2 linked regions of the Homo sapiens genome follow. The protein of the gene in region 1 purifies or fractionates together with the protein of each later gene. This does not show direct contact. Each region holds a gene or a part of one and is shown on either strand. Other genes may lie near its edges.

Region 1 (3,500 bases):
TGTTGCCTCCTCCGAACTGTTTTTATGGTTTGCCATTGTGTCTGCAGCACCTCAGCACACTGATCAGCAGGTAGTAGGCATTTAATAAATGTCAACTCAATGAATGAATGATTGGTAAAACCAATATGAGGAAATAAAGACTTGAAGGTAGATTTTAAAGTGTGAATTAATTCATCATCATAGCAGTGTTTAATGGGGAAAGTCCTACTGGGTTGACAACTTTTTAAAACTCAAAAGAAGTAGAAGCAATGGAGTCATGGGCCAGAAGATTGAGGAGAAGAGTAGTGACAAAAAAGACACATATGGTAATGTTTGGTGACAATCTTATTATTACCAATAGTGACTGATTATCATTAATAAAAATATATTACTTCCCTGCTTTCAACACCTTCTGTATCTGGTATTTACATTGAAATAGCCAAATAGAAGTTTAAGGATGAAAAATATTAAACCTATTTATATAGGTACGTCTCCTTGGAACATTGGCCAAGTAGAATAGTTTTCTTTTGGTGCTTCTTCCACATTTAGCCCTAGTTATTCAGATTGGATAGATAGTATTTGTAGCCATTTTTTAAATGACTGTGTAGATTAAAAAAATATGTGTGTAAGCTTGGTGTCATGGCTTACGCCTGTAATTCTAGCATTTTGGGAAGCTGAGGCAGGAGGATCAGTTGAGGCCGGGAGTTCAAGACCAGCCTGGGCAACATAGCAAGACTGTGTGTCAATTAAAAACAAAAAAAAAAATTTTAGAAAAAAAAAATGTGTTAACTAATCTGGGGAACAAGCTACCCTATGGATAAATCTTTTTTTTTTTTTTTTTTTTGAGGCAGGATCTTGCTCTGTTCACCTAGGCTGGAGTGCAGCGGCGTGATCACTGCTCACTGCAACCTCGACCTCCCAGGCTGAAGTGATCCCCCCACCTCAGCCTCCCAAGTAGCTGGGACTACAGGTGTGTGCCACTACACCTGGCTAACTTTTTAATTTCTTTGTAGAGACGAGGTCTCACTCTGTTGCCCAGACGGGTCTTGAACTCCTGGGCCCAGGCAGTCCTCCCGCCTCAGCCTGCCAAAGTGCTGAGATTATAGGTGTGAGCCACTGCACCCAGCCAAACAATTCTATTTTTGTAGAATAATCAATTTCCTTTTAGCCTAAATTTAATTAGACACCATTTAACGTGGCATTTGTTTTATGAAATCAATTTATGCTGTCTCTTTTCTAACAAAGCAAATAAACTCTAAACATGGGGTTATTATGTTCATCCAGGAGCATTTCATACTACTGAAGCTGAAGCTAGTTCTCAGAGTTTGACTCAGATATATGCCTTACCTGAAATTCCTCAAGATCAAAATGCTGCAGAATCGTGGGAAACCTTAGAAGCGGTATGTTAAAAAATGTTTTCTTTTTGGTAGTTGTGAGGCATAAAAGTAACTTCCTCTCCCTTTCTTTTAAAGGACTTAATTGAACTTAGCCAACTGGTCACTGACTTCTCTCTCCTAGTGAATGTAAGTATATAACTGTTTTGGATGCAGAATTGTTGGATTATTAGAATGAGAAGCTTTTATAATCACTAGGCTTTTAATTAGAATTTTAATAGAACTTATAATTTTTAAGACTGGTATTAAGCCATAGATAGAAGTTTAACTGTTCTCAAATTCCAGATTAATTCAAGAAACTTTTATTAAGCACTTGTTATATACAAGCAGTGTGTTAGATGCTTAACATTGAGAGTGTGGTCAGGTTGGATATAGAAATAAATGAAGCCCATTCTCTGCCTTTGAAGATTCTTGTTTTTTGTGTTTTTTTTTTTTGAGACGGAGTCTCACTCTGTCGCCCAGGCTGGAATGCAGTGGCACAGTCTTGGCTCACTGCAACCTCCGCCTCCCAGATTCAAGCGATTTGCCTCCCTCAGCCTCCTGAGTAGCTGGGATTACAGGCACGTGCCACCATGCCCAGCTAGTTTTTGTATTTTTAGTGAAGACGGGGTTTCACCATGTTGGTCAGGCTGGTCTCAAACTCCTGACCTCATGATCCACCCGCCTCAGCCTCCCAAAGTTCTGGGATTACAGGCATGAGCCACCACGCCCTGCTGCCTTTGAGCATTCTACAGTGAGTGGAGATAGGCCTGGACCCCAGAAACTGAGCTTTCAAGCATGATGGCTAAATGCAAAAGCAAGAATGAAGAGAGGTATTATCAGCTCCAAGGAAAAGCATTTAATTCCAAAGGAAGGAGGCAGGAGTCATAAGGTAGAAAGAAGCATTAAGGATAGCTTCACACAGGTAGACAGTATTTGTATGAGCCTTGAAAAATGAGTAAATATCCACTGGGGGAAGTTATGGAGTATATTTGAGAAGCTGAACAAAGACATGGAGTAGAGAAGTGTATGGCCTGTTCCAGATTGACAAGTACTGCAGTATAACCAAAGCATAAGGTACCATGGGCAAGCAAGGAGGGTGAGGGCCAGATTGTGATGGCTTTGAATGCCATGCTAAAGAATTTGAACTTTACTTTGTGGGCATTAGAAAGCCTAATACTGATTCTTGAGCAGGTTAGAGTCATGCAATTCAGTCTGTGCTTCAGAAAGATCACTGTTGGCTTTGTGAATAATGGCCTAAGAGAGGAGGAGGTCATGGAAAGGAAGACTGGTTAGGAATCAATTGCAAGAGTTCACCTGGAGCAATGGCAATACCAGTGTAAAGGTAAAGGACAGCTGAGAGATATTTCTGGGGGACTTAACAGAAATTGGAGGAAGATGGAGCCAAAGATAAGGAACATTGTCTTTATTCTGCATAATTGGGTGTCAGTGATACTGTTAACATAGATTAGGAAGCACAAAGTCAATTTGTTGGGAAAGATAGATTTTCCACCATTTTTCTAAATTGTTCTTTTTGTCTTTCTCAGGAGTTATGGGAAGGTAGGATGTATGAATACGTGTGTATGTATATTTATGTATGTGTGTCCACACAGGCATACCTGTTTCTGCTTGCAGTTCTGTCTAGGTTTAGTTCTTTGTTTCTGATCTAACCATGATTTTGGGGTTATCTTTGAGTTACGGTTTCCCTGAGATCTAATTTTAAATGAGAAGTTCCTAGATCACACAATCAGAATTGGAATGAGAAAGGACTCAAGAGGCCAACTAATCTAATCCCTCTACTCTTGCCCCAATTTCTAAAATAAATGGTCTTTTAGCCTCTTTTGGAACAATTACAGCACAAGGATATTGATACTTAAACTATTGCATTTGGAGGGTCTAACTCTTAGAAGGGTTAGAGTTAAAAGTGTCTGCCCTATAATAACTTCTTTTTGGCATTTTTGGCCTCTAAAGCTACGTACTGAACAAATTTTGCCTTCTTTCCATATGAAAGTCTTTCAAGGTTTTGAAACCATCATCTTTCCTCACTCTATCCCACCCCACCATATTTTCTTCTCTTCAGAACCCTTGCTTCTTTTGCATTCCTTCTACAATATAATTTCTAGGCTTCTCAATACTGGCTTCTTACTA
Region 2 (3,500 bases), on another chromosome or scaffold:
TTACATTTTTGCTATTGAAGAACAGGATCTTTTTAGATGGTTGTTTCTGAAATTCATGGGATAGAGTTCCATTTTGCATATCATCTCAGCCTGTCATCCTGCCTGTTTTCTTCCTTCCACCTATTGTTTAGACATTTCTTTGTCCATTGACACCTTTCTCAGGGGGTAACCGGTGGGAAGGAGAAGGCAAGGAAGAACAGAGGTGAAAAACCAATGTGTACCTCTTACTACTTTATAAGAAGATATTATGGAAAATTTAGATGAAATTATATTTTTTGGTAGTTTTCCTTCATAGACAAATTCTGTATTTATTTAATAAATAGCACAATTCCAAGCTTTTTATGGGAAAATATAGTAGCCACTCACAATCAACTCATAATCTATGTGGAGACTTGAGGTAGGTATGAAGAAACAATTAGAAGATAATAATTGAAACAACAGACAATTAAATACTAGATTGTTGAATATAGAGCTAGTACTATCGGAATTGAGAAGAAAAGAAGTTTGGGGTTAGAGAAATGGGTCTTGAGCCTGCCTTTCAGGTCAACAAGCATGTGTTGAGTGTCTCCTGTGGGCCAGGTGCTCTGCTGGAGCATTTACCTTTAAGACCCCAGATCAATAGGGTCTTAAAAGTAAATGCTCTAGAGACAGATATGGGAAGAAGCAAGAGGGAAAGAAGTAATAAGGCATTTGTTTGATTAGAGGGTCTACCTTGGGGAATATTGAGAAATAAAATCCAAGTAGCAAGATGAGTTCAGTTGAAAGAGAGCTTTGAGATCAGCGAATTCACTCATTCAATTAAAAATATTATCAAATGCATATTATGTGCTAGGCTCAGGGTTACAATTATAAGCAAAGGGGGTAGGGTGGGGGAAGACATTTTCTGCCCTTATGGAATTACAACTATGTTAAATGTAAAGGAAAGTGACATTGTGCTAAAAGATCCTACAATAGTAGGACTTGACTTAGAGGAAAGGCTTCTATGAGAAAGTCATGATTCAGATCTGGAAAATAAGTAGATATTAATAAGGCAAAATGTATGGAGGTAAGGGAGCCAGTAGAACATTCTAATAAAAGAAATGACAAATGGAAAGGCCTCATGGTGGAGGAAGCATAATGAAAAATGAGGATGTGGGGGCCAGATCATGCAGGACCTTTTTGGCAATGTTTAAGGAATTTTGGCTTTAGCTTAAGAGTAAGGGGAAGCCATTGAAGAGTTCTGGGCATGAGCTCTTGAAGAGTTAGTATCAGGATCATGAAAAGATCCCTGTAAGATCTTCTTATTCTGGAGAATAAGAAGGGCTCAAAAGATATTTAGGAGTTGAAACTTAAGGGACTTGGTATAATATCTTGGTGTGAGGAAAGGAAGATAGCAAGGATGACACTCAAGTTCCTAACTTGGAAAACAGACAGTGGCGCCATTCCTTGCAAGAGGATCAGGTTTTAGGTTGTTTGTTTGTTTGTTTGTTTCCTTTTCTTTTGGGGGAGTGGGGGGAGGTTTATGAGTTTGGTTTTACATGTATTGAGTTTGAGATGTCTTTGAGCCATGTAAGACATGTGGAGAGGTCAAGTAAGTCATTAGCGGTGTAAATATACTTTGAGTTACTTGGATGTATTTTCTTGACTAACTGGTAGAACGCCTAATTGTTTACAACTCTGATCAGAGATGTCTAGAAGGAGCTCTTTTAATACAAAGCTGGAGCATTGTTGACTTGTCAGCTCTGCTATTGCAGAGCAAGACAGGAAAACCAATAGCATAAGAACTAAAATCTATATAAAAACGAAGAATATTGTCATATATTTTGTGAAACAGACAAATGAACAAGAAATAAAGAAAACAGAAAAATATATATAAAGGCCTATTGTGTCTTACTATGAAAGTAATGCTTAACTTCTTCACTAAATGAGCCTTCTCTGAGACTTCCTTTATATTACCACTTTCTCTAATATTCACCCCAGTAACAGCCATTCCAAATGTGAAACTTAAGTGATAAGAAGAGCTCACTGGTTGGGTTACCTCAAATAAAATAAAAATAATGTGAGCATCTTACACAATCCAGGTTGAAAGCCAAGTTTTACCTCCTGTGAAGTCTTTTGCGTTACAAACTTGGTATCTTTGCCCTTTAAGCCTCAACCTCACGTAGTATCTTTTCTGGACAACAGTCTATTTTTGGTTGGCCTTGGGAAAAGGAACTGATAAACATATTCTTTAAAAATGTGGTTCATTTCACTTTCCTAAGTTAGGCAGTGTAGCAGGGTATTAAGGAGCCAGGATATAGGGATTCAAATCCTGCTTTTGTCACTTATTCTCGATAAGATTTGAGGCAAGTTTCCTAACCTGTCTTTCTCATTTTACTTATCTGTTAAATGGGGGATACGTATAGTACCTATTGCAGAGAGCTTTTAAAAGGGTTAAAGTAGTTAATACACATTAAGCCTTTTGAATAGCAAGTGTTCGATAAATATTATTAAAACTAAAATTTGAAGTTTTTATAGAAATCAATATTATGTAAGTGATGCAATCTTATTTTATTAAACCAAAATTGAAATTTAACTGCAGTATATCAGGAAGAATCTAAATATTACTTACAGTGAAGAAGATGCTGGTCAGAACGTAATTACACTCAGGTATGAATGAATGATGGAATTGCAGGTATGTTTTACTAAATGGTATAGCTCATGAGTCTCACACCCAGGTGAATTCCCTAGTGCTATAGGATTTGATTCATTTATGGTCTCCCATTATTTATACTGTATTTGTTCTTCATTGATTTTATTCTTTGCAGTCGGATACTTCTGGAGACTATGAAATCACACTCTTAAAAATCTGTGGTGGAGATGACTGAACCAAGAAGATAATCTCCAAAGGTCCACGATGGGCTTTCCCAACAGCTCCACCTTACTTCTTCTCATACTATTTAAGAGAACAAGCAAATATAAACAGCAACTTGTGTTCCTAACAGGAATTTTCATTGTTCTATAACAACAACAACAAAAGCGATTATTATTTTAGAGCATCTCATTTATAATGTAGCAGCTCATAAATGAAATTGAAAATGGTATTAAAGATCTGCAACTACTATCCAACTTATATTTCTGCTTTCAAAGTTAAGAATCTTTATAGTTCTACTCCATTAAATATAAAGCAAGATAATAAAAATTGTTGCTTTTGTTAAAAGTAATTTCTTTGTTTGCTTTCAGAGCTTGCCAACATTGTTTGATGCCTGGTGCCAACAACTAATATTTTAAAACATGTTTCTGTATAGAAGCTGTTACTGCTTCAGTTTATCACCTTGTTAATCACACTTTTTTGAAAGAAAGGAATAAGATGAAGATGTATGTGACCCTGGCCTACCCTTTGTAGTTGTGATCAAGCTATAGGAGTGGTAATGCATGATAAGTTATTTCAGCTTTCAGAAAACATCTGCTGAAGGATTAATCTAACCACTTCCTGTCTGAATGGCAAGCATGAATTATGGTTGCTTCATGCTAAATACTAC

Evidence for each region. Proteins that work in one complex are often made in the same cells at the same time.
Region 2: the proteins of STX17 (region 1) and ANXA3 purify together in Homo sapiens (affinity purification with mass spectrometry; one large-scale study listed by BioGRID and IntAct). This does not show direct contact.

The regions. Positions count from the first base shown.
Region 1 is NC_000009.12:99,958,654-99,962,153, forward strand, and holds part of STX17 (syntaxin-17), read left to right. Parts: intron 1-1,263; coding exon 1,264-1,379; intron 1,380-1,451; coding exon 1,452-1,502; intron 1,503-3,500. UniProt on the Homo sapiens protein: SNAREs, soluble N-ethylmaleimide-sensitive factor-attachment protein receptors, are essential proteins for fusion of cellular membranes.
Region 2 is NC_000004.12:78,607,270-78,610,769, forward strand, and holds the end of ANXA3 (annexin A3), read left to right. Parts: intron 1-2,786; coding exon 2,787-2,846; 3' UTR 2,847-3,178; downstream 3,179-3,500. UniProt on the Homo sapiens protein: Inhibitor of phospholipase A2, also possesses anti-coagulant properties. Also cleaves the cyclic bond of inositol 1,2-cyclic phosphate to form inositol 1-phosphate.